Linked DNA regions of Homo sapiens: regions 1 and 3 are each linked to region 2. Evidence: fine-mapped expression QTL. A gene starts in region 2. Each other region holds a variant in brackets. All regions are shown on one strand. Distances are from middle to middle.

Region 1 (10,926 bases), 62 kb before region 2:
AAAAAAAAAGTTAGTGGGGAGGGGGAATTAAAAGAACTATTGCATTGGGTTTCAGAATGACAGCTTGTTACTAAGGCTTATTTTGGCCATGTGCCATAAGAGAAACTGGAACTAAAAAAGATTATAACTTGGTGTAATGGAAAAGGCACTGGATTGGGAGCTAGAAGACTGTGCTCTAGTTCCCCTCTACCTCGAACAAGTGAGGGAAGTTCTGGGAAATCAGGTAGCTCTTGTAGGCTATTTCTTTACCTGTAGAGTAAAGGCATGGACAGCCTCTAGGGACCTCAGTACAGACACCTATTATTTAATCTGGTACCTGGTTTTTCTAGAAACTGCCCTTCCTTCTCACTCCAGACACCTTGCATCGGGGAGCTGCCGTGGTGGTCTGAGGTAGTCTCACTCCTGGCCACTGTTGGTTGGTACAGGGTTTGACAATCAGAGTCCTTTACTGGCATTTAGGAACCAGAACTGAATAAAAGGAGGCTCAAACTGAGAACAAGTGAGCCTCAGGGGCTGGTGGGGCCATGCTTCCTGACTGTGGACTGGAGAAGGAGAGGAGTGGAGGGGAGATGCAGTGAAAGCAGGACTCTCACAACTGCCATCCTTATTTCCATGGATAATATAATGCACTCCCCCCTCCTTTTAGAAAAAAATGGAATTCCTGACACTTTCAACCAAAAGAATCTCAAACACCTTCACTAAACTAGAATAAAACTTTCCCATCTGTAGAATGCTGTGGGTGAGTGCTGAGTGACTTTCAGAGCATCCAGGCCTCATGCCTTGCCCTCTGTGGGATGGGCCTTTGCGGTGAGAGCCAAGGGGAGACCACAGCCTTGCCTCCTCCACCGGCCTGCTGGAAACAGTCCTATGAGCCTCATTTCTCAGAAGGCCCTCTGGGTTTACACTCAGCCAAGGCCTTGTGTTCAGCGGGGAGGAATAACTAATCAGCAGCCTAAGTCATTGGTGGGATTGGATTTGTTGACTAGGAAATAAGAACAGTCCTTTTTTTAATGATTGTATGAATGACTAAAGGAGTGGTCAGTGTAGGGAGGTGGGCTGGAGGTCTTGTATTACTGGGCACAGTAGACTCAACGTTTGTGAAGTCAGTCCAGCCTCCCCACTTCACATCAGGACCTCAAAGGGGTGCCATCAGTGTAGACTGCCCAGGCCAGTTCATGAAGGGTGTGTCCTAGGAATACTATTAGGGCCTTAAATTGTGCCTGGCCTGGGTGGGGTGGGGCTATTAGGGTAGGAACAGCCTGGCTCCCTGCTCCAAAATACCAGATGAGGCTGATAAAGTCAGCACCTAGAGGTTAATTAAAAGCAATCTCGCCCAGGTGGCAAGAATCACCAGAACACTGGGGACAGCGTTTTCAGCCCATAGATTCCATGTTTTCTCTTACTGGGTGGCAAAAATGGCAGACTCCAGGATGTGTGGGGTTTGGTCATCTTGTAGACAGGACCTCAATTCACAGGGCACCTGGCCTCTCCCTGGTGGTCTCAAGGGTGGCCTGAGAATGCAACCTCAGGATTCCCCTTGCTGTGGCTGGTATGGGAAGTCCCTGCCTGCAAGTATAAAGCCTCCACTGTGCTCAAGATTGTACAGCCAGACAGCCAAAGAGAAAAAAGCCAGGACTCTCACCCAGCGAGGTCTGGCTGCAGAGTCTAATCAATTCCTCACTGTATGATAAAGGTCCTGCCTTGATCACACCCAGACAGAACCTGTCCCAATCTGCAGATGTAGCATTGATTTTCAGTTCTGCCTGCAGAATGCCTAGGCTCACGTCTCAACTCTACCACTTACAGGCCAGGCACAGTGGCTCATGTCTGTAGTCCCAGCACTTTGGGAGGCAGAGGCAGGAGAGCTGCTTGAGCCCAGGAGTTCAAGACCAGCCTAGGCAACATAGTAAGACATTGTTTCTTTTTTAAAAAGTAAAAATTATTCAGTCATGGCGGCGCACACCTGTAGTCCAAGCTGAGATGGAACTTTGAGGCGGTAGTGAGCTATGATCATGCCACTGCACTCTAGCCTGGGTGACAGAGTGAGACCCTATCTCAAAAAACAAAATAAAACAAACAAATAAAAACAAAAAAACAAGCTCCAGCACTTACAGGTTTGTGACCTTGGACAAGTTATTTAACCTCTTTGGTTCTCAATTTCCTCTTCCATAAAATGGGAACTATAAGAGCATCTACTTGACAGGTTTGTTGTGTGAATAAAGTGAGTTAACATACACTAATAGCCTGAAACAACACATGCATACATTAATATCAAGAAATGTTAGTGATTATTAGTATCACCTCATCTTTAAAGCTCTCCTGGAGCCCCCAGGCAGACCCTGACAATTTCCAGTTGTGTAAAATAGGGATAATAGAGCCAGGTATAGTGACATGTAGTCCCAGCTACTTGGGAGGCTGATGTGAGAGGGTTGCTTGAGCCCAGGAGTTCGAGGCCAGCCTGGACAACATAGTGAGACCTTATCTCTTAGAAAGAAAAAAAAAAGATAATGATAGTACCTATCTCAAACGGCTATTTTAAGTATTAAGTGGAATACTGTATTTGAAAGTACCTAGCACAGGACAAGATTAGCTATTATTGGGGTACAGTTTGTGAAAGGAAAATAAAATCTCAGGATCCCAAATCACTATGCCAAAAGGAAAAAAATTAAGCTAAAAGCTGAGTAATGCAAGAAACTGCCTTTGCTTTTGTTCCTAAGCAGATAGCTACAGATAAAAGGTTAAATATCTGCATAAGTAGCTACTCTATGTTCACCTTATCTTATGTAAAGTGTTGATTTACTGAGCACTAGAGGAATACATGATTGACTGTTCCCCTACCTGCTCCTTTTCTCTTGCAACATGTGGATTCAGTAATGTGACCATGCCCTCCCTCTCTCCCTTTTAAATACTGAAGCTCTCAAAATCATCTTTGGAAAAAGGCACAGACCACAGATTGTTCCTGTGATTTTGTGTTCCTTTTCTCCAGGCATGTCCTTAACCTTGGCAAAATAAACTTTTACATTGATTGGGACTTGTCTCAGATACTTTTTGGTTTACAGGTTCAATGAATGTTTAAGGAACAAATGAGACTTCCCAAACCTCAGAGATGTCATCTGCAACTTGGAAAATGCTCACCATTTTTGTCTGATCATTTGAGTGCAGATCAAAACTGAGGCCATCTGCCTAGCCCATCGGTCCTCAGTGTATTTGATTGTAATAATACATAACACAGTGCACACTGAATAGGGCTCTACCATTTACAACACCTGTTCACTCATCTACTTTCTGCATATAAAATCCCCATTTTACAGATGAGGCAACTGAGGCTCAGAGAGCACAAAGGATTTGCTCAAGATTGTACAACTAGAGTCAGCTCCTCTTCCTCCTACGAAGGCTGCCTTCAGAGTTTCACCTATTTTAGGTGAATGCCAATTGCAAAGTAGGTTTACCTGGCCAGGCTGGACTGTGGAGGTGGCCACCAGAAAATGGTTTACCTTAAAAGAGGAATTTGTAATTCCCAACATGCAGAGGAGTGAAATGAGCAAGAGGTTTGGAATTAGCATCCAACTATCTCTTGGCTATTTGTTTTTCAGGTGATTCACTTAGCAAGTTCCTTAACCTGTAAAAAGAGAGTGGCAAGAGTGTGCTGCCTGCCTCCTGGGGCTTTCTGCGATAACATAAGGGAAAGTGCTTTATAAATGTTAGTTACTACAGTCTTTACCATGAAGTTGATAAAGAGGCCCTGGGGCCTCTTCAGCCTTTCAAGACGGCTGCTGAGTCTGCTGAGCAAAGCCGGGCAGTGCAGTGCAGTGAGAGACAGCAGCCCTGTCTCCTGCAGAGTGGATGGGGGGACTCACAGGGGATTCATTTCTCAGGCACAGGAACAAGCGGGATAACGCTAATGTTTTCTTAGAGCTTCCAGATTATAACAAAGAAGATGAAGGGAGGAAAAGTCCAAACTGCCTTTTCATTTTGCTGCCTTGCCAGAAAGCACACAGAGATGGTTTTTCCACAGACAAGTCCACATTGGTATATCCTATTCGACACCAGGATTGCGGGGGTGGGGGGAGGGGGGCGGTCAGTCCCATTGTGTAGCTCCTCAGCCTTATCATGTTATCTTTCCATTTTCTGATAAATACAGAAGGCTTATAAAAAGAACCCCTCCATTAAAATTTTCCAACACAAATGAATAAGCTGTCAAAATGGTTACAGAACCAATTTCCCTTTTAATATTTTCAGGAAAGGGGAAACATAAATTCTGCAGAAGTCATTTAAAGTCATAAACCTTGAAAATGTTTGCAGTGTGTTCTGCTGATTGAAGTGTTCCAGCTGACTTAGGCCACAACACACCACAACAACACAGCCTCTGCAGTGCCAGGGAAATGGCACTTCTGAACACTTTCCAAGTGGCATGGCAAGGAAAAAGGTTCTTTTTTTCTTCATGGCATTGATTTCTTAAGTAAATCTTTTGATTCCGGAGTCAAGAACAAATGAGATCTCTGTGCTTTTTGAAGTTAGTTCTCAGCAGGGGATTTTGTTTAATACACATCAAAAGCACATTGTTCTTCGCTGGGGGCTATATCTTAGAGGTCTAGAATATGTCACATTCTGAGAACCCCCTCCTGGGTGCCCTCTCCTGGGGAGTTGGTGCTGAGTCTGGCTCTAAAGCTCATTCTCCACTCTGCTCTAGGAAGATATTTTACATTTTACAAATAGATATTTACATATAGATAATTTACAAATAGATATTTAAAAATAGATTATTTCCCTTTATTTCCCCACCAAAGATTCATGGTAGCTGGAGGGGACAGGGACCACTGGGAATGGACAAGTCAGGGTGGGACATTGTTTACCAAATCAGGATGCGAGTTTCCTGGATTGGGCGGCTGGCCCC[C/G]TGCCCTCCCGGAGGAGGAAGGAACAAAAAGGCAGCCGCAGAGGCAGGAAACTGGGGAGAATGCAGGCTGACCTGCTGAGAAGAGTGGGGGCAGCAGCAGGGGTAGAGATAACTGGAAAGTGCGTGGGAAGGAAGGGAGAGAGAAGCCCTGTGAAAAGAGGGTTAGAAAGCAAAAGAGGAAAGAAAGCTTCCAACATAGAAGAATGCAGCTCAGGGGCTCCGAGAGGCATCTTCCTGCAGAAAGAGTTGGCAGGTGAGGAGTGGCCCCTACAATCTTAACAGGTGGGGAGCTGCCAGGACCACACCTTGGTCCTCTGTATACGCTGGACCTCTTTGTCAGCTGAGAAAACATCCCCTGCCAGCACCACCATGGGGCAAAAATGCCTTGGTATTCCACACCATCCAAGGAGAGATTATGTTACTTTTTCTGCCCTTCCATTCCTATCCGTACTCCAACTCATGAATTCCAACTTAGGGAATTCCAGGGCAGCTCCATGTGCTGAAGAAAAACTCTGTCTATCTACTCTTCCTCATTCTGTGGTTTGGGCTTACGTGTCCCTTCCCCAGGGCAATCTCCCTGAGCATCCAGGCCTAGATAAGGTCCTGGGGTTGCACACTCCTTCATGTCCTGAATTCTTCCTCCATTACACTGTGACAACTATAGTTACTTATTTGTATAATTATATATTTAATGTCTGTCTTAGCTGGGTGCTCATGCCTATAATCCCAGCACTTTGGGAGGTTGAGGCAGGAGGATCGCTTGAAGCCAGGAGTTTCAGATCAGCCTGGGCAACATGGCGAAACGTTGTCTCTACAAATAGTTAAAAAATAAGCCAGGCATGGTGGTGCACACCTGTAGTCCCAGCTACTCATGAGGCTAAGGCAAGAGGATCACCTAAGCCCAGGAGTTTGAGGTTACAGTGAGCTGTGATCATGCCACTGCACTACAGCCTGGGTGACAGAGCATGACCCTGTCTCTAAAAGATAAATAAATAAAAACATGTGTCTCTTGGCCAAAGTGTAAGCCCCTGGAGCACGTTGTGTTTATCTTGGCCTTTGTTGAAAACCTATTGCCAGCACAGTACCTGGGACATAGTAACACAGAATGAACACTTGAAGATGAATGAATGAATTCTAGTGGTTCCTCTAGAAGAGTGACAAAGGAGCAGGACTTACTGCACAACTTCTTCTGGAACACGGAGGTCAGCGTCTCAATCTGGCTGAAATTGGCCACAAGGAAGACATGGTCCTCATGGGGCTCACTCCCAATGGACTTCAAGGTGTTGAAGTCTACCTGGCCCACACCAATGGCAAAGATTAGGATGCCCGTGTCCCGTGCCTTAGCAGCCACCTCGGCCACGGAGTCCTGAGGTCTCCCATCTGTCACGATCATTATGACCCGTGGCACATTCTCCCTCAGGGGCCGGGCCCCCTCTGCTTCTGAGAATGCGATGTTCAGGGCATACTGGATGGCCAGCCCAGTCATGGTGCCCGTGGACAGATGCCGCATCCTCTTGACAGCACGCTCCACCTCGGACTTCCTCTTGAAGGTCTTGAGGGAGAACTCATTCTTGACAGTGCTGCCATATTGGAGCAGGCCCACTCGGGTGACATCAGGACCAATGTCCAAGAATTGCAAGATGTCCACGATGAACTCCTTGACCTTTGCATAGTCATGGGTGTTGACACTGCGAGAGCTGTCAATGATGAAAACCAGGTCTGCCCGCTTGTTCTCACAGGAACTCTCTGGGGAAAGAGGAGAGGTCAAATACATTAGAAGAGAGGCCAGGTGTGGTGGCTCACACCTGTAATCCCAGCACTTTGGAAGGCGGGTGGATCACCTGAGGTCAGGAATTCAAGACCAGCCTGGTCAACACTGTAAAACCCTGTCTCTACTAAAAATACAAAAATTAGCCGGGTGTGGTGGCGGCACCTGTATTCCCAGCTACTCGAGAGGCTGAGGTAGGAGAATCACTTGAATCCAGCAAGCACAGGTTGCAGTGAGCCAAGAGAGTGCCATTGAACTCCAGCCTGGGCAACAAGAGTGAGACTGCATTAAAAAAATAAAAATAAGAATAAAAACATTAAAAGAGAGTTAAGGACCCAGGGCAGACTGGCTATTGTTGGAAATCCTGGGACTGATGATCACCTTTGAAACCTCCTTCATCAATTTTCCTCCCCACTCATGAAAGTTATAAGGGTATATTTGTGCATGGCTGGAAGATCATGACTACTGGCTATAATCAGATAGCAATCCTTTTTGCAAGATAAATGAATATATTAGTTTCTAGAAAGTTGCCAATGCAGTTTTTATGTAACCAAACACCTGATCAGGGTCAAAATTATTTTATTCTTTACTGCATGACACATAAGCTTGGCTGGGCACTGCAGAGAATATAACAGAAGCTTAGGACAGGGTCCAAAGTTAAGGAGCTTCTAATCTACCTGGGGAGAATTAACTAATAAAACCATGAAAGAATAACTGGCATGAAAACTGTGTCGTCCTGACAATAGCTGCTAAGAGAATAGGGATATGAATGGGCTGGGGTCAAGGAGATGGGACGTGAGCTGACCTTATAGATGCGTGGTGTTTGGATTAGAGAGAAGGAGCACATCGAGTGGATCACATGAACCAAAGCCCAAGACGGAATGAATGTGGTGGGTAACAGAATAAGTGATGAGACCTTGTAGTAGAGGGTATACTAGGAGTTGCAGGCAGGAATTAGTTGGACAGATGGCCTGAAGCCAGTTTAAAAAGACCTTTCCTTTCAGACTGAGAAATATGTACATGATGCCACCAGTGAGGGGCATCTTAGCATCATATTATGTAACTCACCTCTCCCATAGGGAAGTTACATAATGAAAAGTCAACAGAGTCTGGCAGTGGTTTGCAAGATGGATGGTATACACAATTTCTGGACTAATCTCATTGAGAGGGGGACTCAGATCTAATCCTAGGACAGTAGTGGAAATAGAGAAAAGGGGACCTGACTAAGAAATATTTCAACAAAGGACACAGTTAAATTGGAAAAAGGCAAATGTTAAGTCCCTTACCACCATGACTACCATAATTATGCCTTAAGCTGCTAAGCAAGAAGACTGTAAAGGTTTGAGTCCATAGACAAACTCATCCCTTTTGCGTTTCTAGTACGAGGGTGATATTGGATGAGATGAGAGGCCTCCAGCTTTAGTGGGTGGAGGCTGGGCATTCCTGTTGGGAGTTTCTCGGATATTCTGAGCTACTGCCTTTCACCAGGGTGAGTCCCTCCTCCCCCATTCTCTACTCCCTTCCCGGACTTTGCAGCTGAATCAGGATTTGAAAGGTATTAGAAAAGGGATCCCAAATGCTTGCCCTAAATCCTAATCACCACAGCTGCAAGAAAGAGAGAGAAAGCCAAAATGAAACAGTAAAGCTAGTCATAAAAATGAGAAGTGGGAAAGGCCCATGAAGTCATCCTGTCCAGGCCAGCTTGCCAGGCTGTGACTCGTCCCTGAGTGCCTGCACACACAACTCATCCTTGCCGCCTCACAAGTCTAATGATTTTAGGGGAGGAGGCACCCACAAATACCAGTAGCCTGGCAAGAAACCAACGTTCTGACATACCCATGCATAACCCTGAGGGCTGGGTGAGTCCAGGGTGAGTGTCTCAAAACAGAGGCCCCAGAAAGTGAGCCTTTGAGGGTTCAGCGATAAGATCTATATGAAACCTAACATTTCCAGAGCACTTTGTCACTTGGTGTGATTTGATTTTCAGAACAAGTTTTTGAGAAAGGATCAAGAAGCATCATACCCATTGCATAGATGAGAACATGGGAGCACTGAGAGTTTGAAATCTTTCATAATTTAGAAAAAGAAAAAAATATACAGAGGTGCAACCAATATCCACCTCGTTGGGCAGCTGTAAGAATTTAAGGAAATGATGTAATGAAGGATCCAGCACTTGGGAACTCCCGACGTGTGCTGGCTGCATGTACAGGCTCTCCCCACCCCTCCATCAGCCCTCACTCGTGTCCAGCCCCAGGCTGGGTAGGGGCAGGGTTACAGCTATGGCTATGTGGTTGGTGCTGCACACAGGCACCTGCTCAAGGAGGTGAGAGGAACTGAAATCCAGCCAAGCCCTGAGCCCCAGGGGCTGAGCCACCCTAAGAGGCACCTTAAGGGGGGTGCTTTTCAGCCAGGTGCAGTGGCTCACGCCTGTAATCCCAGCACTTTGGGAGGCCGAGGCGGGAGGATCACAAGGTCAGGAGATTGAGACCATCTTGGCTAACATGGTGAAGCGCCAAATCTACTAAAAATACAAAAAATTAGTCAGGCATGGTGGCACGCACCTGTAGTCCCAGCTACTTGGGAGGCTGAGGCGGGAGAATCACTTGAACCCAGGAGGCGGAGGTTGCAGTGAGCTGAGATGGCGCCACTGCACTCCAGCCCAGGTGACAGTGCAAGACTCCACCTCAGAAAAAAAAAAAAAAAAAAAAAAAAGGCAGGAGTGCTTTTCTAATTTTCATGAAGGCTCCTGTGGTTTAGCATATAGCCCTGGGTTGGGGCAGTAGATGATGGATCTGCAGATCCCAGGAAGGAGGACAAGGGGGAGCATTCCCAAGACCCAGGCAGGCCCTCTCCAAGAGCCACACCTGCCCGACCCTTCATGTCTGAACTTACTGCAGGGAGAGTGTGACCCAATAATCTTTACCTGCTGAGAAGAGGGGCCAGGCTTAGACCCTGCCATGGAGGAGGATATTAATTAAGGCACCTTTGAAGGGAGGGAAATTCACACAAGACTCGCACTCTGAGAACTCTCTTCCTTTGGAGATCTTTGGAAGTAGCAGAGCCTCCTTGGATTGGGCCTTTATTATGGGTCTTAGTCATGGTGTCAATATCTATCCAAGCATCACAATCAATTTAAAGGGAAGCCTGGAAGTTCCATGGAGAATTGTGTGCTAAACTGGATTCTCTCCCTTCAAAACAAATGGGTAGTTTCCACAACACCTGCACATGTACAAAAACGCCACAAAGGTTCAAAATGTTGTTGGAGGTTCCAAGAAAGCTGTAATTCTGAGTTGAAAACACCAAGTCCTGGCAGCCCAAGTAACTGAATTTTCTTCAAAATGTGTCCTTGGGTCCCTTGAGGGCTCAGAACCACAGTCTCATAGCTTGTCCCTGAAAGGGCTAGTTCAATGGTTCTCAAACTCAAGTGTGCATCTCAACTCTCTAGAGGACTTGTTAAAAACTAAGACCAGGCCAAATGCACAGTGGCTCATGCCTGTAATCCCAGCACTTTGGGAGGCCGAGGCAGGCAGATCACCTGAGGTTGGGAGTTCAAGACCAGCCTGACCAACATGGAGAAACCCCATCTCTACTAAAAAAAAAAAAATAATAATAATACAAAATTAGCTGGGTGTGGTGGTGCATGCCCATAATCTCAGCTATTCAGGAGGCTGAGGCAGGAGAATCGCTTGAACCTGGGAGCTGGAGGTTGCTGTGAGCCAAGATCATGCCATTGCACTGCAGCCTGGGCAACAAGAGTGGAACTCCATCTCAAAAACAAAAACAAAAACAAAAACAAAAACAAAACAAAACAGAACAAAACTAAGACCAGTGCACCACAACCCCAGAGCTTCTGATTCTGTAGGTTTCCATTTCTAACAAGCTCCCTGGTGAAGTCAATATTACTGGTCTAGGGACACACACAGGTCAAAGAAATAGAGAGCTCTCTGGAGAAAAGAAGTTCTATAAAGTCTTGACCTTGCTATCTCACTGGGAATTCCCCAAGGTTAGGAAACTAGTCTCATTTATCTTTGTAGGCATGCAGTTGGAAACACAGAAAGTCTTCATTCAACATCTGTGGAATTAAATGGAATTCTGGTGGAAGCAAGTCTTCAGGGAAAGAGATTGAATCAGAGCAGTTAGTACAAAAAGATGATGACAAGCACGAAGCCAAAATGTTCTAGAGGAGATGTGGTCCTGCTAATGGAGTCATAGATTCTAGGACCCAAATCTTTGCCATTTTATGAGGGACCATAACCACTTCTGA
Region 2 (10,926 bases):
CTCCAAAGATGTCTACATCATAATTCCCAGAAGCTGGGAATATGTGATGTTAGATGGCAAAGGGAATTAAGGTTGCTAATCAGATGACCTTAAAAAAGGGGAGATGATCCTGGATTATCTAGGTGGGCCAATGTAATCACGAGCGTCCTCAAAAGTAGAAGAGGGGCCAGGGGCGGTGGCTTGTGCCTGTAATCCCAGCATTTTGGGAGGTCGAGGCGGACAGATCACAAGGTCAAAAGTTCGAGACCAGCCTGACTAACATGGTGAAACCCCATCTCTACTAAAAATAGAAAAATTAGCCAGGCATGGTGGCTCGCGCCTGTAATCCCAGCTGCTCAGGAGGCTGAGGCAGGAGAATCGCTTGAACCCAGGAGCCAGAGGTTGCAGTAAGCTGAGATCACACCACTGCACTCCAGCCTGGGCAACAGAGCAAGACTCTGTCTCAAAAAAAAAAAAGTAGAAGAGGTCAGGGCATGGTGGCTCATGCCTGTAATCCCAGCACTTTGGGAAACCAAGGCAGGAGGATTGCTTGAGCCCAGGAGTCGAAGATCAGCCGGGCAAGATAGAGAGACCCTGTCTCTACAAAAAATTAAAATTAAAAAAAAATTTAGCCAGACATGGTGGCACAATCCTTGTAGTCCCAGCTACTTGGGAGCCTAAATAAGAGGGTCACTTAAACCCGGGAGACTGAGGTTTCAGTGAGCCGTGATCGCACCACTGCATGATAGCCCGGGCGACAGAGCAAAACCTTGTCTCAAACAAAAAAAAAAAAAGAAGAAGAAGAAGAAGAGGAAGGCAGAAGAGAGATCTGAGGTGTGGCAGTGAGAGAAGGATGCAGCCTGACATTGCTGGCTTTGAAGATGGAAGCAAACCGAGCAATGCGTGCAGCCTCTGGAAGTTGGAAAAGGCAGGGGAACAAATTCTCCCTGCTGACACCTGGATTTTTAGCCCCATGAGAACCATTTCAGAATTGTGGCCTCCAGAACTGTAAGATAATAAATCTGTGTTTTAAGTCACTAAGTTTGTGCTAACTTGTTACAGCAGCAATAGGAAACTAGTACAGACACCGTCTGGGAATCTCAGGGAGGTCAAACGTCACTAGAGTGATTTGCTTCACAGAGATCTTGCTCTGGACATGAGGGCATTTTTTCTATTTCACTAGAAATGGAAGAGGAGAAGCAGCTAGAAAAGTCAACAAATGCTGTTGATGGGGCAACAGTGACTGTTCTAAGGGCCAAAGTTGAGGGTTACTGGCCAGGCGTGGTGCCTCACGCCTATAATCTCAGTACTTTGAGAGGCTGAGGCAAGAGGATCACTTGAACTCAGGAGTTCGAGACCAGCCTGGACAACATGGCGAGACCCTGTCTCTGTAAAAAAAAAGTTTTTACAAAAATCTAAAAAAGAAACAAATTTGAGGGTTACTCAAGGGGAGGGAGAAAGCCCAAAAAGGACAGGAAGGAGCCATTTCTGAACTGAGTTTCAAGAAGCATTTGATCCATAGCCTTGACCCCTCTGGTCTTGAGCTTTTGGTCTTTAAGACATGTGAAAACAGCCAAGCATGGTGGCTCACACCTGTAAACTCAGCACTTTGGGAGGCTGAGTCAGGTGGATCATGAGGTCAAGAGTTTGAGACCAGCCTGGCCAACATGGTGAAACCCTGTCTCTACTAAACATACAAAAATTAGCAGGGCATGGTGTTGCAACTTGGGAGGCTGAGGTAGGAGGATCACCTGAACCTGGGAGGCAGAGGTTGCAGTGAGCAGAGATTGTGCCACTGCACTCTAGCCTGGGCAACACAGAGAAACTGTCTGGGAAAAAAAAAAAAAAGAAAAAAAGAGATGTGAAAACAAACTCACCTAACTGGGAGGGTACAGGGAGAAGCCCTAAACAGAAGTGAGCTAAAACTCTTTGATTTAGATCATTTTCTCTAATACTCTAATATTTCTTTCTTTTTTCTAAATAGTTTTTCTTACCATCATGCCCAATCTAATACTCTAATATTTCTGGCAGATAGAATAATATGTCAAAGATGTCTATGGCCTAATCCCCAGACTGTGTTGCCTTACATGGCAAAAGGGACTTTGGGCCGGGTGCGGTTGGCTCACGCATGTGATCCCAGGACTTTGGGAGGACAAAGTGGGCAGATCACCTAAGGTTAGGAGTTCGAAACCAGCGTGGCCAACACGGTGAAACCCCATCTCTACTAAAAATATAAAAAATTAGCCAGGTGTGGTAGCTCATGGCTGTAATCCCATCTATTTGGGAGGCTGAAGCAGGAGAACACTTGAACCTGGGAGGCGGAGGCTGCAGTGAGCCAAGATCACGCCACTGCACTCTAGCGTGGGCGATAGAACGAGACTCTGTCTTGAAAAAAAAAAACGGGGGGACTTTGGAGATGTGATTAACTTAGGAATTATGAGATGCAGTGATTAGCCCAGATTTTCTAGGTATGGTTTTGTAAGAGGGAGACACGAGAGTCAGGATGGGGAGAAGGGTTGGAAGATGCTGTTACTGGCTTTGAGGATGGAAGAAGGAACCAAGAGCCAAGAAATGCAGTCAGGTTTTAGAAGTCAGAAAATGAAAGACATTTTCCCAAGAGCCTACAAAAGGAACCACAGAGCCCTGCTGACACCTTGATTTTAGCTCTACAAAACCCATTTAAGAGTTCTGAACTTCAGAACTGCAAGATAACATCTTAGGGTTGTTTTAAGCCACTATGTTTGTGAAATTTGTTATAGCAGCAATAGGCAACTAATACAACAACATAAAATAACTACAGGGTATCCCCATGGGCAGTGAGCCCCACTTTCCATAAGTAGATAAAGGTTCCTCTGACAGTACTTTTAGAATAACTTTCCAAAAATGTTAGCTGATCCACCTGCTCAGCCGCTGATTTTTACATGCAGGTATTTTGTGAAATTTTCCATTTCAATTGACTCACTTTGAGTACTTTACACCCTTCACACACTGTTGGATAAATTCACATTAATTATTTCATTTAACCCTTACAACAACCCTATGACATAGTATCACGCCCATTTGACAGATGATATAAACCAAGGCTCAGACAATAATAGTAAGTATAGCTAACAAATATTGAGCATTTATTCTGAGCTAGGCACTGAACACCTGTTAACTAATTTAATTCTCCCAAAAAATCCAGTCTTCATTTACAGATGAAGAAACAGATGTCAGGCACAGAGAGTCTAAGTAACTTTCCAAAATCTTTGCAGGTATGAGGGGCTAGAACTGCAACCCAGGTCTTTCGGGTGCCAAGAGCAGTGTGCTTTGGGTTGTACCCCAACTCCATCTCATCCATGTCAAAGCCACTGTCATAGTCATTAACACCAATTACTGGCAACAGCCCAGCCCTGCCATTCCATCTGAGCCCCCTTCAGGCAGTATTGGCTGTCTGCCGAGCCACATGGCAGGGTTCAAGGATGGCCTCATGGGCTGAAGCTCCAAGTGGCAAGTGGCCCCTTGGAAGGACCTCCCTGGCACCATTCACTAGCAACAGCAATGACATTCCCCATTCTCCCCTTGGCATATGCTCAGCCTCCCTCTTTCCCTGGCCCTCCTGAGTTATCTTGCCATATGCTTTAAACAGGGGAGTCCTCCATAGCTTCCCTAGAAGACGGGGAATCCCTGGAAGGGACGCTCCTGCAGGTGCTACAGATCAGAGGGCAGTGAGTGCCAGGGGCAGCACTAGAGGCTCTCTGCCAACTTGACTGGTCTTAAACCACTCACCTCTCCTACTGCTTGCCCAGCCTCATACCCAACACCTTGCTCAGGCCAGCGTTAGACCTGTCACACCCTCTTCGGCCTGCTTTTCCTGAGGCCTAAGCCGGTCTCTCCCCCTTTTAGTCTCCCCACCTCACTCCTTGCCCTCTCTTAGGTGCCAGTCAGAACTGTTTCTAAATAAACTGTAGAATTATTTTTCCAGAACCTCCAATGGCTCTCTTATTTCAAAGAGCAAACATCTCTCCTTTTCTTTAAATCTCAGGCCACACTTTTAACTACCTTTTGCTAAACAAGGACATATGGCACTCGCTGATAAGAGCTTAGGGCATGACAGCTGCTCGAGGGTGTTTCAGATTTGGACTCTGCTCTGACACCTCCAACAAGCAAGCTTAGGCCTTGGTGGCCCTGGGTTGCCTGGGAACAAGAAACCCCAGAGCCCCGATTTATAGAAGACAGTGTCCTGGTAACTCGGGGGCCTGAGATTGAATTCTATTGGCAGAAATAAAAGTAAAAAGTGTGGACAGATAGGAAAATGCAAGGTGAAGAGCCATAAGTATCTCATTCTCCACAGAGGATTCTAAGTGCCAAGTTTCAGGGACTGAGAGGAAACATTCCAGGTCATAAACCCATGTTGGTATTTTGACATGGTTTTATGAGGTTGGCCCTTTGGGAGCAAGCAGGGAGAACTGCGCCCGTGTGGACTCCTGCATGGAACTACCAGTTGCATACACGTGGCTTATCTGCCACCCTCACGTACCCATGGAGAGCCTCTCTTTCTGAACTGGGGAAGAGGTACATTCACTGCTCATAGCAGCTCCTTGCTATTTCTGCAAAGACAAGCCATGGAACTCACCTAATCTTAGAATGCTCCTGGAAATGTTCTAAGGACTTTACTTGCCATATCTTTTTTTTTTTCTTTTGAGACGGAGTTTAGCTCTTGTTGCCCAGGCTGGAGTGCAATGGCACCATCTCCGCTCACTGCAATCTCTGCCTCCTGGGTTCAACCGATTCTCCTGCCTCAACCTCCCGAGTAGCTGGGATTACAGGCATGCGCCACCAAGTCCGGCTAATTTTGTATTTTTAGTAGAGACGGGGTTTCTCCATGTTGGTCAGGCTGGTCTCGAACTCCCGACCTCAGGTGATCCGCCCGCCCCGGCTTCCCAAAGTGCTGGGATGACAGCCCTGAGCCACCGTGCCCGGCCGCCATATCTCATTTAATCCTCACAGTTCTGTGGGTATTACCATCCTCATTAGACAGATGAGGAAACTGAGGCATACTTGGGTACCTTCAAGTTATCAACCCTGTAAACTTCACAGCTGGGGTTGAAACCCAAGCAGGCTGACCCCAGTCTCTGCTCTCGACCACGGGTCCCTGAAGTCTCTTGACTGCCCCATTCCTTAAAGGCCGATTTTAAGTGTGCTTGGTGCAGATGCATTGTGGCTTCCTGATTTATGACAAATTGAAACTTGGTCAATTGGGTTTGTTCAGGGTGGGCGCGAGTGTCCCTGAGGAGAGCACTTTCCTGTGCCCCCAGTCCTGGAGACCCTACCAGGGACAGTCCCCATTTCTCTGTCCTCTCCCCAAACGGCTCCAAATTGTTCTGGGGTTTCTAGCAACTACCACAAAATGCCTTCCCCTTTCTCTCCCTCTTCCACAATATAGGGAAGCTGGAGGTTTAGCTGCCATAGAGACCCAAGAACAAAATCCAGATGACACGGGCATGAAAATACCAGGTTCCGAAGAGGGAAGGGGGAGCCATCGGCTGTCCGTGGAATAGGAATCACCCTGCATACCCGCTCAACAGGTCTCCCTTTCCCTGGGTCGCGGTGGCCGGGGTCTGGGCGTCCCCGCTGCGTGCCACAGCGCCCCCACGGGGCACTCCGGGGCGGCTGCAGCGCGGCTTGTCCTGCGCAGGGAGCGCGCCCAGCTCTCCCGGCCGAGGGGTCGGGCAGCGCCGCCCTCCCTCTCCCCCTGTCCTCGGAGGGGTCGAAGGCGCCGGGGCCCCGGGGCGCTGGGGGCTGCAGTGCGGGCCTGGGGAGGGCGCCTGCGCGTCGGGCAGCCCAGGCTCGGTATTCTGTCGGTGGGTCGGTCCGCCTGCACTTCGAGGCCGCCCGGCCGCGCAGAGCCGGGGGAAAGCGCGCCGCGCTCACCTGCAGCCGCCGGCGCCTGGGAAGCGAGGCAGGGGCGCAGCCACCCGGGTCTTCCTCGTCGGCCTCTTCGCCTCGCCGAGGGCCGCGGCTCTCCTCGGGGATCGCTCGTGGGAGGCGAGGACGGAGCCCCAGCTTCTGCCTCTGCCTCTGTCTCCGCCGCCGCCGCTTGCTCCAAGTCCCATCCCAGAGCGCTCCCTTCGCTCGCTGGCTGCCTGGGAGGCGCTGGGCAAGGGCGGGCGGCTGGGGAGGCGGTGCCGCGGCGGGGGTGGGGAGCGGGCCGGGCGGAAGGAGGGGTGTCCTCTTTGGGGATGGGGAAGGCGCGGAGAGGGAGCGGCGGCGAGGGCGGCCCCACCCTGTGGGCAGCCCCGGGAGCTGGGCACTCTGGCGGCGCGCCCTGCCTGCTGCCACCTGGCTCCACTCCGTCCGTGCCTGAGCCCAGGCGGGCATCAGACTCCAGGGGTCCGGAGCCGCAGGCACGGAACACAGGCAGCTTTAGGGGCCTGTCGGGTTGGGAGTGCGGGGAGGGGTCTTCTGGGGGAAAGGAGACATGGCAGGAATCTTACATCTAGAACTTGGGGTCATGACCTGCGGGACGCACCCACTGACGCGGGGATGGAGAAAAAAGTGGTGAGAATTGGGCTAATTGATGACAAGCGCCAAGAGCTGTCTTGCCAGTGCCCAGAGCACCCCACCAGTGCCAGTTCATATTAACAGAGCGTCCACTGGCTGGGGACCAGGCCCCGGGATGGGGAGGAGGTAAAGATGCCAGGATGGAGAGGAGACAAAATTCCTACCCCGAGGGAGCAGGGAAAGTCTAGTTCAGACAAGACTTTTGAAATTATGAGCAGAGACATTTGCAACTTTGCAGAATGGAGGAACCTCACCTTGGATGTCCCCATGGAGCCTTGGAGGGATGCAGAAGACAGGATTGGCCAGCGACAGTCAAAGTGGCCGGCACCCCCCTCTACCAGCTCCCCAGTTCCTGGAGGCTGGGGTGAGTGGATGTATAACAGACCAGGACATCTCCTATAAAGCTCCAAAATTCTGTTCCCAAACCACTAGCCAACGCACCCAGTTCAGGTTTTGTGTTTTTGTTTGTTTGTTTGTTTTTTGAGACGGAGTCGCCCAGGCTGGAGTGCAGTGGCGCAATCTTGGCTTACTGCAAGCTCTGCCTCCCGGATTCACGCCATTCTCCTGCCTCAGAGTAGCTGGGACTACAGGCTCCCGCCACCACGGCCGGCTAATTTTTTTTGTATTTTCAGTAGAGACGGGGTTTCACCGTGTTAGCCAGGATGGTGTCGATCTCCTGACCTCGTGATCCGCCCGCCTCGGCCTCCCAAAGTGCTGGGATTACAGGCGTGAGCCACTGCGCCCGGCCCCAGTTCAGGTTTTAACAAGCTACCAGCAGAGGCAGCAGCACTAACTAGTTTCAAAACCTCTGGATGTGCCACAGTCTGATAATTTGGTGCTTTGGGCGGACTTTGTTTTGTAATTAACCATCATTCCTATTTGATGATAGAGTTGATTTCTGAAATATGAATAAACGCCAAAATCAATTCTTCAGAAAAGCTCCAGGAGGGGTAATTAAAATTCCAGCCATGAAGCAAGGGGTTAACATACTCGAGCCATCAGGCAAGTCAATGATACCTTAATACCAAGAAAGAATTGTGGATTCCTGTTCCTTTACCCAGTACCTTAGGCCCACTGGGCACTCTTGGCTGCCTGCACTGATCACAAATAGTTTTTTTGTTATGTCTTTGGGAGGAGGTAGGTGGAGGTCAGAAAGCAGAGGAAAGTCTTCAGGAAATGTTTGGTCTCTGAAGTCTTGGATCCCATAGAAGAAAATTCTTCCTGAGTCTGGGCCAGTGAAAATCCCCTAGGAACTTGGGAAGTTGAGCTACAGTTTATGGAAACTTAAATTTAAAATGTGTTGACTTATTCCAAGACACCAGTGTGATCCAGTAATTTACCAGGAAAACAATAACAATCCCCAAACCCTTCCAAATTGTAAGGAAATTGTAATTTAGTAACTGATTCCAGTGACTCTGGTGTATGCCAATTAAAATGGGTGTTTTCCCCCCAGGGAGTTCTATTGGAATTCTTCAGAATAGTTAATCTATGTACAAATTACACTTGGGGCCAAGTCAAATAGGTTAAATGAGTTGTTCTACCTTGTGGGATGATCTTCAGGTCTGCCAGAAAAAAATGAAGGAAAAGCAAGTTCAATGTCCTGAAATATAAAGGCAGAACAAACAATGAAATGATTTCTGGGTTACCTTCAGGATGAATTGCAAGTTGATAATTAAGACTATAGATTAGGAAAAGGCCAAAATTGCCTTTTCTGCTAGAGGTCCTGCCATGTGCTAGATGTACAGAGAACCTTATTCAGAAGTGTGGGTTTAAGATTTTTAGTTCTGGGACTGGGCGATGGCTCACACCTGTAATCCCAGCACTTTGGGAGGCTGAGGCGAACTGATCACTTGAGGTCAGGAGTTCTAGACCAGCCTGGTCAACATGGTGAAACCCCGTCTCTACTAAAAATACAAAAGGTAGCCGGGTGTGGTAGTGGGCGCCTATAATCCCAGCTACTCAGGAGGCTATAATCCCAGCAACTCAGGAGAATCGCTTGAACCTGGGAGGCGGAGGTTGCAGTGAGCTGAGATTGTGCCACTGCACTCCAGCCTGGGCAACAAAACTAGAGTCCATCTCAAAAAATAAAAATTAAGAATAATAATAATAATAATAATACAAAAATTATCTGGGTGTAGTGGCATACGCCTGTAATCTCAGCTACTCGGGAGCCTGAGGCTGGAGAATCACTTAAACATGGGAGGCAGAAGTCGCAATGAGCCGAGGTTGCACCACTGCACTCCAGACTGGGTGACAGAGTGAGACTCTGTCCCAGAAAGAAAAAAAACAGATTTTCAGTTCTTATGTGGGCACTCATGTAAGCAGACAAAAATGAGGTATGTATTATCTGAGAACTCCTAAGAGCTCACAAGTTAACTGGAATTGGTATCTGTTTAAACTAATCACAACCTGAGTAGCTATACTTGGGATCAACTCTCAGTTCTCGATCTCCACGTAGTCTATTGTGGAGTAAGGATTTGGGTCAGGAGAGTCATTTGACCCAGGCCTCACACTCGTGAACAGCCTCGAATATAGACTTTAAACATAAGCATCCCTTTGCTCCTTGTAAACATTAGAACTTTTTGTTTTGCATTAGAATCCTTCTTACTTGAGACCTAGCTATCTGGCCTAGAGGGCAGATTGAAATGAGACTGTCAAATCCAAAGGGGACCAGAGTACAGTATAAGGAAACTGAAGAAGAAACAGGTTGCCTCACGGACCTATAAACCTAAAATAAAGCTCTACTGAATGCATGAGGAGACATGTAAAATTGCAATGTCATCTCACGTGCACTGTTTCCCTAGGTGACAGACAGTGTTTGAGTCCTATGTAAACTATTAGAGCTCCTCCCTGTCTCCCTCAAGTAGAAGGCCAGGAGAGGAAACATCTTCATATCCGGCCAGCTGCCCATTTGTTGGAGCTGGAGATGCAGGGTTAAGGGAATGTTCCAAGGTAGTGGATGAGCTTGGACTCCAGCCCAGGGAGGGGAACCCTGTAGGCAGGGCAGAGCTCCCTTTGGGATACCCCATCTACATGGACAGTTGGGTCCATGTCCAGAGGGTTCCTTTGAGGACAGGCTGACTGATGGCACCATTGTCCCAGGTGACATAATTTCTTTTTTTTCTTTTTGGCATATGAACATTTATTACTACAGTGTTTTCACCATTAAAATTTATGATCTTGGTCTTTCCTTCTTGCCTTTGTATAGGGCCAAAAGAAAGACACAGGCTACTTTGACAACCTGAAAGCGAACTCCAGAAATATCACCAACAGCATGACCTTTTTGACCAAATCCAGCAACCAGAGCTTTATGGTTTTCCACAATAAGGTTCAAGCAACCATCACTGAATACAAAGGCTGTGATTTTCTTGCCATCCTTGATCCACTGGACCCTGACACACTTCCTAATGGCAGAATTTGGCTTTTTGGCTTCAACTCCTACTTTTCCCAGCACAATTCCTTTTGCATGAGAAGCACCTCCAAAAGGGTTGGCCTTCAGGGCTGTGCCCAAATGGGCTTTCTTGTACTGTTTATCATGCCACTTCTGATCTTGTTGGTGACTACAGAGACTCCTAGCAGTATGAGGTCCACGACACTTGCCCATCCTGCAGTGCTACGGGCCTGAGCAAAAGAGAGAAGCAGCTGTCCCAGGTGAAGTAATTTCTAAATAAACATATCCCATCTTGGAAAGACAGGATGAAAGTGATCAGGAAAAAAACTACAGCAAGTTGAAAATTTGTTCAAGAAAACAATACTCATTTCAAAGGGGACTCAAATGTTTTTATGTGATTTTGACTTGGACCATGAGCTCCTGAGGACAGGGACTGGGCCTTTTGCTTATTTATAGATCTTGCCCTATGCCATGCTGTAGAAGGGACTGGGTTACACCGGCTCTAACCAGGATTTTAGAGCCTTGTAGTTTTGTGGAATCAGATTGATGCAGCTTCCTATCAAGGATGAGATAAGGCCTGGCACAGTGGCTCATGCCTGTCATGTCAGCCCTTTGGGAGACCTAGGCAGGAGGATCACTTGAGCGCAGGAGTTTGAGACCAGCCTGAGCAACACAGTGAGACCCCATCTCTGCAAAAAATTTAATAATTAGCTGGATTAATTTTTTAAAAATTTAAAAATTAGCCTCCCAGCAATTTGGGAGGCTGAGATGGGAGGATCACTTGAGCTGGGGAGGTCGAGGCTGCCATGAGCTGTGATTGCACCACTGCACTCCAGACTCCAGCCTAAGCAACAGAGCAAGACCCCGTCTCAGATTTTAAAAGAGAGATAATAGGCAGTTGCAGTTGGCTGTAGTCCCAGCTACTTGAGAAGCTGAGACAGGAGGATCCCTTGAGCCCAGGAGTGTGAGCCTGGCTTGGGCAACACAGCAAGACCCCATCTCTACAAAAAAAA
Region 3 (10,926 bases), 130 kb before region 2:
AAAATAAACAAAAGGTGATCTTGCAAAATATCCAGCTATTTAGGGACGCAGGGGTTGGCAGTTTCATGAAGAAGGATCTAAATGCTTCGCCTTGCTCTGTTGAGACCACGCTGGCATAGTATCGTGGGACTGGAGGAGGCGTATCTCTGATGCTGCCCCAGGCTACTGCAATTCTGTCCTATGGTAAGGTCACTCTATCCATGCTGTGTTTCTGCCAGCAGATGGAAACTGTGTCATAACCAGGAGCCAATAAGCAATTCCTTTCCTGGTAGAAAATGCTAAAGCCATAAGACCCCACACATAGCAGGCTCCAGGGAAGATAGAGAACTGGAAAAGGACACAAAATGAGCTTGTGGAGAGGCTTTATGAGACTGGTGTTGCGGGAAAAGGTCACCACCGACCTCATTGGCTGGGCTGGATCAGTTTAACTGCACAGCATTGTTCTTTTTCTGGGGATGTGGCAGACACTGTTGGTTGTCTTGCCAATAACCATTACCCCATGACCCCCAAGCATGAGTCATGGCTGGTCTAAGCCAGCGTGGCAACCATGTTCTTCTTTGTCAGTCATTGGTCAAGGGGTGGGAATATGCCCTAGTTCTGACCAATGAAACATAAGAAGCTTACTGGGGGCCCTCAAGAAAGATTTTTCTTCCTGAAAAGACAAAGGTGGCCAGGCACAGTGGCTCATGCCTGTAATCCCAGCACTTTGGAAGGCCAAGGTGGGCAGATCACTTGAGGCCAGGAGTTCAAGACCAGCCTGGCTAACATGGTGAAACCCCACCTCTACTAAAAACAAACAAACAAAAAAACAAAATTAGCTGGGCATGGTGGCATGCGTCTGCAATCCCAGCTACTTGGGAGCCTGAGGCATGAGAATCGCTTGAACCCAGGAGGCAGAGGTTGCAGTGAGCTGAGATTGTGCCACTGCACTCCAGCCTGGGCAACAGAGTGAGACTCTGTCTCAAAAAAAAAAAAAAAAAAAAGACAAAAGTGTATAAAGAGAAATGCTTTTCTCTGCTCTCTGTCCTTTCTGCCTTTGAGTCTTGTAGTGTAAGGATATGATGCTGGTAGCTGCAGCAACCATCTTGTAACCAAGAGGTGACAAGGATGAAAATGTAAATGCAACATACTTTGCCAGAATAGAAAGACAGAAAGAGTCTGGGTTCTTGATAATATCACTGAGTCACTGAGCCATCCATAGGACCAACCACCTTTGGACTTGTCAGGTAAAAAATAAAAGTCCTTCTGACTTAAAACACCATTAATTGGATTTCCGGTTTTGTGTGAACAAAAAGCACCATAACTGATACAGGGGAAATGATCTGAAATCATAAAGTAATGACTAGATTTTATTTTTACCATGTATCTGCCCAAAAGTTATTTGACGAAGCTCACATCCACAAATCACTTAAAGATATGACACATCACCCTCTTGTCTCAGTGGCTCCTTGCTGCACTGGCTAACCTCTATCTTCCTTCACGATCAGCTCAACATCATTTTGTCATCTTTTGTGACCTCGTAGATGAAGTCAGTTCTTTCTACAGGACCTCTCTTTCGTAGCATTCATCACAATGGTTATGTAGTATGTTTTGTATCTGTGATGCTTCAAAGTCTGTTTCTTTCACTAGACTGAGTTCCACGAGCAGGGACCATGCCATCTTTATTTTTCTCACTATTAGTGGCAGTCTGATAGTTACATTAGTGATGATAATCATAGCATCATAGCTGCTGCCATTTCTTAAATACCTGCTGAATGCCAGATGCTGTGCCAACCACTTTACAAACATAACTTCATTTGACCCTGCAAGATATGTGTGATTGTTAACCATATTTCTTTTTTTTTTTTTTGAGACGGAGTCTCGCTCTGTCATCCAGGCTGGAGTGCAGTGGCGTGATCTCGGCTCACTGCAACTTCTGCCTCCTGGGTTCAAGCAATTCTCCTGCCTCAGCCTCCTGAGTAGCTGGGACTACAGGTGCCCGCTACCACACCCGGCTAATTTTTATATATTTAGTAGAGACGGGGTTTCACCATATTGGCCAGGCTGGTCTCGATCTCCTGACCTTGTGATCCACCCGCCTCAGCCTCCCAAAGTGCTGGGATTATAGGCGTGAGCCACCGCACCTGGCCTGTTATCCATATTTCAAAGCTGAGGAATTGAGGTTTAGCGAGGTTAATAACTTGATCAAGATCCACTGCTAGTAAAAATGGAAATGTGAATGGGACCCAGACCTGAAGGACCCCTCAAAGGGTCTCTTAAAGGATCTGGCTGGACACAGTGGCTCATGCCTGTATCCCAGCACTTTGGAAGGCTGAGGCGGATGGATCACTTGAGGTCAGGAGTTCAAGACCAGCCTGGCCAACATGGTGAAAGCCCACCTCTACTAACAATACAAAAATCAGCCAGGCATGGTGGTACATATCTGTAGTCCCAGCTACTTGGGAAGCTGAGGTGAGAGGATCGCTAGAACCCAGGAGATGGAGGTTGCAGTGAGCCAAGATCGCGCCACTGTATTCCAGCCTGGGTGACAGAGTGAGATTCCGTCTTTAAAAAAATTAAAAAATTAAAAAAAAAAAAAAAAAAAGAATCCGTGACGTGCCCTCCCAGGTGACTGGTGGCTGGAGCTTGCTTCATGCCCAGAGTATGAGCAGAATGGCTGCAGACAGAGTGCATGGAGAGAAGGTCACAACATGCAGGGCTGGTGTAGAAGAAAAGACATCACCTTGCTGTGTCACTGACCCTTGGCACTCTCTCTGGAGCTCACTCCCATGTGAGGAGAGGCAGGATATTGTTAGCTGTGTGCAGTTTCTATTCATCTACCTGAAACTCATCAGCAGCCTCACCTGTGCAGGCCATAACTGAGTGCCAGGAAACAAGCCAAGAGCTTTGATGGAGGAAAATAGGCCTGGCAATAAAACACCAGTCACAGACAGACAGACAAACACAGAACAGGAAGGGCCCGCAGTCTACTGCCTGTAGGAATCACTCCATTACACCATCAGGGAAAGGTGAAATGATCTTTAGTCAACTCTCTTTTTAAAACCCAGCATTCAGCCACTGTGGAAAACAGCATGGCGGTTCCTCAAAAAATTAAATATAGAATTAACCATATGATCCAGCAATTCCATTTCTGGGTATACACACCCAAGTTCATAGCTGCATTAATAAATAAAAGTCAAAAGGTGGAAGCAACCCAGGGATCTATCAAAGGATGAGTACAAAGGATGATGTATAGATACAATGGAATATTATTCAGCCTTAAAAAGGAAGGAAATTCTGACACGTCCTACAACTGAACGAACCTTGAAGACATTATGCCAAGCAATATAAGCTGGTTACAAAAGGACAAATATTCTATGATTCCACTTATATGAGGCACCTAGAATAGTCAAATTCATAGACAAAAAGTAGATTGGTGGCTGCCAGGAGATGGAGGAGGAGGAGCTGGGGAATTATTGTTTAATGGGTATAGAGTCTCAGTTTGGGGTGAAGAAGTTCTGGAGATTGAAGGTGGTGATGGTTGCACAACAATGTGAATGTGCTTAATACCACTGGACTAGATACTTAAAAATGGTTAAAATGGTACATTTTATGTTATATATATTTTGCCACACTAAAAAAGCCAATGTTGTCTTTAAGAAAAATTTATATTTACGTATTGCAAAACAACATATTGTATACAAGTATACAATTTTTATGTCAATTTTAAAAAATAAATAAATACCAAAAAGAGGTACAACTATGTTGTAACAATTTTAAAAATATAAAAAAAAATTTTTAAAATTTTAAAAATATAAAAAAATATGCTGAAGCTCTCGCTTCAGCAGCACATACAATAAAAATATAAAAAGAAAAACATTTTTAAAAAATTAAAATAAATTAGTAAATAATGTTTCAAGCAAGATTTTTTTTTTTTTTTTTTTTTTGAGACAGAGTCTCACTGTCGCCCAGGCTGGAGTGCAGTGGCACGATCTCGGCTCACTGCAAGCTCCGCCTCCCAGGTTCACGCCATTCTCCTGCCTCAGCCTCCTGAGCAGTTGGGACTACAGGCGCCCGCCACCAAGCCCGGCTAATTTTTTAATATTTTTTAGTAGAGACGGGGTTTCACCGTGTTAGCCAGGATGGTCTCGATCTCCTGACCTTGTGATCCGCCCGCCTCGGCCTCCCAAAGTGCTGGGATTACAGGCGTGAGCCACCGCGCCCAGCAAGATTTTTTTTTTAAAGAATGATTTACACATGAGATAATTCAACTGAAAACCATTTAGATTCTTAAAGAGGTTATCACCCAGCAATCTGGCAGGCAGCTATTCAAATACCACCCTTTTCGGCTGGGCGTGGTGGCTCATGCCTGTAATCCCAGCACTTTGGGAGACTGAGGAGGGAGAATCACTTGAGTCCAGGAGTTTGAGACCAGCCTGGACAACATGGTGAAACCCCGTCTCTACTAAAAATACAAAAACTAGTCAGGCATGATGGTGCACGCCTGTAGTCCCAGCTACTAGGGAGGCCGAAGTGAGACAATCACCTGAGCCTGGGAGACAGAGGTTGTAGTGAGCCAAGATTGCTCCACTGCACTCCAGCCTGGGCAATAGAATGAGATTCTGTCTGGAAAAAAAAAAAAAAAAAAA[C/AC]CTTCTCCAAATGGTTCTTTTTAGCAGACGTTTAACAGTGGCTCTTTGCCTTCTCACCACCCTTTTGTCATATTTCCTCATGTGTGTGCTTCTCAGATATTCACTCACTCACTTATTCATTCACTAAATATTTATTGAGGACCTACTGTGCATCCTATATCTGGTACCATGATAGGTGCTCTGACATGGCACCCACAGGATGGACACAACTTAATCTGGTAAGGCCCAGAGTGTCCACTAAAGCTCTGTGAGGTCAGATGACAGGACTGTCAGAAAACAAATCAAACGATCTTTCTGAGTGCTAACTTGTGAAAGAGTTGGAGCCCTGAGCAGGTAAGACTGAAACCATGAAAGATCAGTGACCCCAGGTAGTACATTTTGATACCAGCTGAGTGCACAGATAGTAAGTTTCAAAAAAACTGGAGAGGCAACAGGGTGTTAAGGCAGGAAGTCCTGTTCCTACAGTTTAGGAAATCCAGGTCCTGAGAAGTAGAAAGTAGCTGCTCAGGGTCACATAACCAATATGAGTGACATTGCCAAGCCTGGACGTCACGTCTCTTGGCTCAGTCGAACCCGTGGGCTTCACACCAATTTTTGAGAGCACTCATCATGGTACCAGAATCAGGGATCCTGGAGCCCAGCACAGGGGATGAACCCACATCTGATTTGGCCCTAGGGCTCTACCTGGGCAGGCAAGGCAGTCGCAGTTTCTGTGCTTTGCACTACTGCCTTAATAATTCATGCCTTAAACTGATGATAGCACTCTCCATGAGGAGAAATTGTGCCCAGATGAGGAGCAAGAACAAATCCTGGCCAAGAATCTTTTCTTCAGTAGGATTCTGCCTTGATCTTTTTTCCCCCAGTTTAATTTCGATGACATCAAATTCCTTTAAAAATAGATTTCATATTAGATTTGAAAATTACCCACATCCATCAACCTCCTATTAAACGTAAATGGCTGTATCCTGGGCTGAAGATTTGTAATGCTCAGATCACTCAAGAGACCTCAGGCTTCTAATAACGGACTCCAGATTTTTAAACCCAATTTCTTGGCTTCCTTCATCCACATAATGCTCCAGAGAGACAGTGAGCACTCGCTTCCGTTTACAGCTGTCTGCCCTAATGGACTGAGTGCAAGCATGAAGTCAGGGGCCGCTCCTGCAGGCTGACCTCAGGAGTCAGGGTTGGGTTCACAGCAAAGACAATGGAAAATGTAACGATGAGGCGGGACGTTGGGCGAGGGCTGATGAGGACACTGGCCTTTAGGAACAAATTTCATTTTTCTTGGATGAAAAAGTAAGAACCCTGGCTAAAGAGGGGCTATACCCACTGAATATACATGGATGAGCATTAGGGACTCTGGTCGGGGCCACAGCTTGCTTGCAAACAGGCCCACCTGGGGACCAATCTGTAGCGCTCAGACCACTCCAAAACGGTCACTCCCTCTCTACTCGCTCTTCCTTTCTCAGTCTTCTCCTTCCCATGATAATGATGCCTGCATTGCATTGGATCTTCTCTTATTCCAAGTGCCTCTCCAGGAAGGGTGTGGAGGGAGTAGCAGAAATTAAGGGACTCAGATGGTTGGTAAGACATGCAGAACGTCAAGAAAATGTCCTCCGCCCATGGCCCCAAGCCTAACTTGTTTCCTTTTTCCCCTCCATTAGTAACACATGAGGAAGCTTGCAATGAGCATCTGAGCTGAACCAGATCTAATCACCGCCCACTGAAGAGCTTTGGGTCTGCAAATTTGAGTCCACCTGGGAGTGATTTCCCCTGGGTGCAGCCAGTCCCTCACACACCCACTCCTAGCAAAAGGTGTAAATAGCACAGAGGAGTGGCCAGACCAGAAAAGTTGGCCCTCTGACCTATTGCAGGCATGTGTGGTCTTATGAAAAATAGCTTATCTAATTGTTTTCACATTCTGAATGCTCTCCATTAAAATTTTCATTTAATGCTTGAATGTGTGCAGGGTTTGTACCCTCACAAGGCAGTGAGAATAGTTTTATAAGACAGGCTCCGTTTCAAAATCCAGGATTTGCAACCATCTGCCACTATACACAGTTTAGCACTTGCTAGAATGAGTATGAAAGTTAATCTGTGCTATGAGCAGAATGTGACTCATCTGGATTCAGTTAAATAGCTCATGGTGCTTTTCAAAAAAGATATATGTGAAACCTTTCAAAACGCAGTCTTGCCAGGCAGAACACTGCTGTACACACCATCAGGAAGAAATGGGTGAAGGAACATACAGAAAATTACATCCCTCAATGGAAGCTCCAGAGAGTTCTACGAATGACATTGTCAGCAGACCCCAAACAATTCAGTGTGCATAAGTGTGGACTAACTAGGGAAAGACTTTCTGAAAAAAAATTCACAACTTGCACGCCTAAAAAAGGCTATCTTTCTAACAAGATTGAAGAATTAAAAAAAAAATAGCTTCAATTTCTCCAGGATGATACATCATAGAAAGATTCACTTACTCATTCCCATTCAGCAAACATTGTGCACATCTATGAGTGCCAAGCACTCTTTGAGCTTTTGAGAATTCAGCAGCGAGAAAAAGATAATCGTCTCTGTCCTTGTGGGCCGTCCATTCTAGCAGTCTCTCAGGAATGGTTTGTCTTAAGCAGGTGCCCTCTGGGGCCTGTGCTCAGATCCCCAATCATGCCCTTTGATGTGCTAGATGACAGGCATTTGAGGCACTCAGTACATCCACAATATCAACCCGCTGACACCCTGTACCCCTTGAATATTGCTGGGATGTCCTAGAGTCTCATTTTTCTTCTTCTTTCCTATCAAAGGGAATAAAGCTGCAATGTCCTCCCTCTTAGCATCCGTCAAGTGTCTTATCTTGTAGGAGTAGAAGAAACCAACTCCTTCTACCTCTCATCTCTGGGCCCATTCTTTTCTTTTTCCAAGACCCCAATGCTATGGGAATAAGGGGGAGGGAGACTGCACCTGCATTTCACATAGGTGGGAGCTTCAGCTTGGGTCCACTTGGCTAATTGAATCTAATGGCCAGACCTATTCAATATTTAAAAATCATCCACATAATAGGATCTAGTGAGCCAAAAAGTAAAATAAAGGGGAGAATAATGTTAATAGACACAATGCTGAATACAAGCACATCTTGCTTAAGATTTGCACGGAAAGGAAAACTAACTAGAGGAGCATTTAGCAGAACAAGCCCTTCTCCAACTCCCACTGTAACTTACTTCTGCAGGTTTTCTTATCTGGATTCAGGGTAAAGCCTTTCAGGCAGTGGCAGGAATAGGAATCATCTGTGTTAACACACTCGTGCTGACATCCGTGATTAGATGAGGCACAGTAGTCTATCTCTGGCAAGAAGGAAAAATCACAAGAATGGCAAACCAATCAATAAAGCTAGCATAGGAAAACCAGGGATTTCCAGTCTTCATTTTCCCAAACAGGTAAAATCCCACACCTCAAAGAGTCACACCATGAAGGGGTCTCCCAATAAAGCTACTTCCATGTTTAGAGATATGGCCTCTCCTAAGAGAAACTTCTTCTCCTTCTTTCCTTCTTCTCCTTCTTCCCTCCTCCTCCCTCTTTCCCTTCCTCCCCCTTCTCCTTCCTCTTTCCCTTCCCCCTCTTCCCTCTTCCCCCCTCCCTCCTCCTCTTCTTTCCCTCTTTTCTTTTCTTTCTTTCTTTCCTTCCTTCCTCTCTCTCCCTTCCTTCCTTCCTTCCTTTCCTTTCTTCCTTTCTTCTTTCTTTCTTTCTTTTTCTTTCTTTCTTTCTTTCTCTCTTCCTTTCCTTCTTCTTCTTCTATTATTATTATTATTATACCTGGACTCTTCTGCTAGGCAAAGACAAACTTCCTGACATATTACAAAACGTTTATGCAACAAACAAATTTGTGAACATGCTTTCCTTGTCTTGATTCATGTAAGAGCCACTAAAATGAAGATGGGGTATTTGCCAGACTGCAGGCTGAGAATGGTTTAGCTGAGTGTTTTATCGAATTTAAGCAATTAAAACAATTAAACGTTCCCAAAGCCAAACTCCAAACCACTTAAACCCATCAAACAATGAGCCAAACAATAAGACACAAAATCATATCCTGGGAAAAATAAGGCCTAGGAGTGAAAGGCATAAATACTCTGAGTTCAAAACACCTCCTGGTTACCTCATTGGGCTCAGCTGCACATAAATAGGATTTTTACCTCAAGATTCACAGAGAATGTGATCTCTAGGGATACATTAATTTAAACCAAAATATTTTTTTAAAAGTATTTCATGAAATTTTTCATAATGAAATTTTACTTGTGTATTTTTATTTTTTTGTTTTTGTTCTTTTTCTTTTTTTTGTATTTTTTGTATAAGTATTTTTAAATATGGAAAGAAACTTTTATTGCAGAATCTGAGCAAAATATTTTCCCATAGTGGAACTTGGACACATTGTTTAAAATTGCTTGAAATAAATGACCACTGATGGAATCTTAAAAGGAGTCTTTGTTTTGATGAGGGTTTTTATTATTTTAAGGAACATTTGAACTGCATAAATAATCTTCCTAACAAATAATTTGGTATAAATGAGAGTTCCCAGTCCATACCAGAGGAAACAAACTGAGTAAGGGAAAGATATACAATATTCTTGAAAGGAAAAAATGTTGAGTGAGATGCCAATTTTTCCCAATTTAAACTTATGGAAATGTTAAGCAAAATATACAATAATGTCCAATTTCAAAAATGGACTGAGTAGTATAATAAATCCATGTACATATCACCCAGCTTCAGGAGAATCAATCTATGGCTGCTTGGCTTTCAGCTATGTCCCCACTCTCTATAGTAAGATCCCACATTACTTTGAAGCAAACCCCAGACATTGTATTGTTGTTATTATTATTATTATTATTATTATTATTATTGTTTGTTTTGAGACAGAGTCTCGCTCCATCGCCCAGGCTGAAGCGCAATGTCGCAATCTAGGCTCACTGCAACCTCCACCTCCCAGGTTCAAGCAATTCTCCTGCTTCAGCCTCCTGAGTAGCTGGAATTACCAGTGCATGCCACCATGCCTGAGTAATTTTTTTTTTTTTTTTTTTTTTTTTGAGATGGAGTCTCACTCTAACACCCAGGCTGGAGTGCAGTGGCGCAATCTTGGCTCACTGCAACCTCTGCCGCCCAGGTTCAGGCAATCCTCCTGCCTCAGCCTCCCAAGTAGTTGGGATTACAGGCGCCTGCCACTGTGCCCAGCTAATTTTTGTATTTTTAGTGGAGATGGGGTTTCACCATCTTGGCCAGGCTGGTCTTGAACTCCTGATCTCGTGATCCACCTGCCTCAGCCTTCCAAAGTGCTGGGATTACAGGAGTGAGCCACCACACCTGGCCCAGACATTGTATTATTTTGTCCATAAATGCTTCATAATGTAGCTTTAAAACACTGGGAGTCTTTATAAACAATATAATTGTAATACCATAGTCATATATAAAGGCATTTAAAAAATCTTTTTCTTTGAAAACAATTTCAAGCTTACAAAAAGTTACAAACATAAAAATAAAACAAGAAACACTTAAATACTCTTTACCCAGATTCACCTTTGTTAACATTTTACCCCATTCCTGTGATTACTTGGTCATCTCTCTGACCTATGTGAGGGTACATTACATACATTCTGGTCCTTTCCCTTAAAAACAGTCCGTGTTTCCTAAGAGGAGGGATATTCTCTTACATAACTGCAGTATGGTTATAAATTTCATAAGTTTACATTGATACAATACTTATATTTAATCTACCATCCATATTCTAATTTTGTCAGTTGACTTAATTATGTTCTTCATAGCATTTTTCACCTTCCAGTACAGGATCTAGTCTAGGGTCAGAGATTGTATCTCGTTTTCATATCTGCTTAGTCTCCCTTAATCTAGAACCATGCTGCCTAATATGTCTATTTAAATTAAAATTGATTAAAATGAAATAACAATTAAAATTCAGCCAGGGGTGGTGGCTCATGCTTGTAATCCCAATGCTTTGTGAAGCTGAGGCTGGAGGATTGCTTGAACCCAGAAATTTGAGACCAGCCTGAGCAACATAGCAAGACCCCATTTCTGAAAAAAGAATTTTTTTTTTTTTTTGAGATAGAGTCTCGCTCTGCTGCCCAGGGTGGAGTGCAGTGGCACGATCTCAGCTCACTGCAATCTCCGCCTCCCGGGTTCAAGCAATTCTCCTGCCTCAGCCTCCCGAGTAGCTGGAACTATAGGCACACACCACCACACCCAGCTAATTTTTTGTAATTTAGTAGAGACGGGGTTTCACCGTGTTGCCCAGGCTGTTCTC

Which allele goes with the higher level. Positions count from the first base shown, and alleles are read on the strand shown. Sizes are in standard deviations (SD) of each study's normalised expression. Not every link is listed here.
For the expression in iPS cells of the gene that starts at base 6,116 in region 2, allele AC in region 3 goes with a lower level than allele C (moderate effect, 0.68 SD a copy in HipSci).

What was found. PIP is the estimated chance that this variant, and not a neighbour inherited with it, causes the effect.
Region 1: its variant is fine-mapped to the expression of MATN2 in lung (TOPMed, PIP above 0.99).
Region 3: its variant is fine-mapped to the expression of MATN2 in iPS cells (HipSci, PIP 0.95).

Annotation. Positions count from the first base shown.
Region 1 is chr8:97,926,667-97,937,592 of GRCh38, reverse strand. It overlaps MATN2 (matrilin 2), which reads right to left. Exons shown (of 19, transcript NM_002380.5): 3 at 6,071-6,640. Among named protein-coding and RNA genes, the nearest start is that of MATN2, 63 kb to the right of the region's middle. The variant C/G (reference allele first, on the strand shown) is at 4,895.
Region 2 is chr8:97,864,254-97,875,179 of GRCh38, reverse strand. MATN2 (matrilin 2) reads right to left here and starts at 6,116. Exons shown (of 19, transcript NM_002380.5): 1 at 5,893-6,116. It also overlaps the pseudogene RPS23P1. RefSeq lists an enhancer at 6,516-7,015.
Region 3 is chr8:97,991,520-98,002,445 of GRCh38, reverse strand. MATN2 (matrilin 2) reads right to left here. Exons shown (of 19, transcript NM_002380.5): 7 at 7,844-7,966. Among named protein-coding and RNA genes, the nearest start is that of SNORA72, 45 kb to the left of the region's middle. The variant C/AC (reference allele first, on the strand shown) is at 4,629.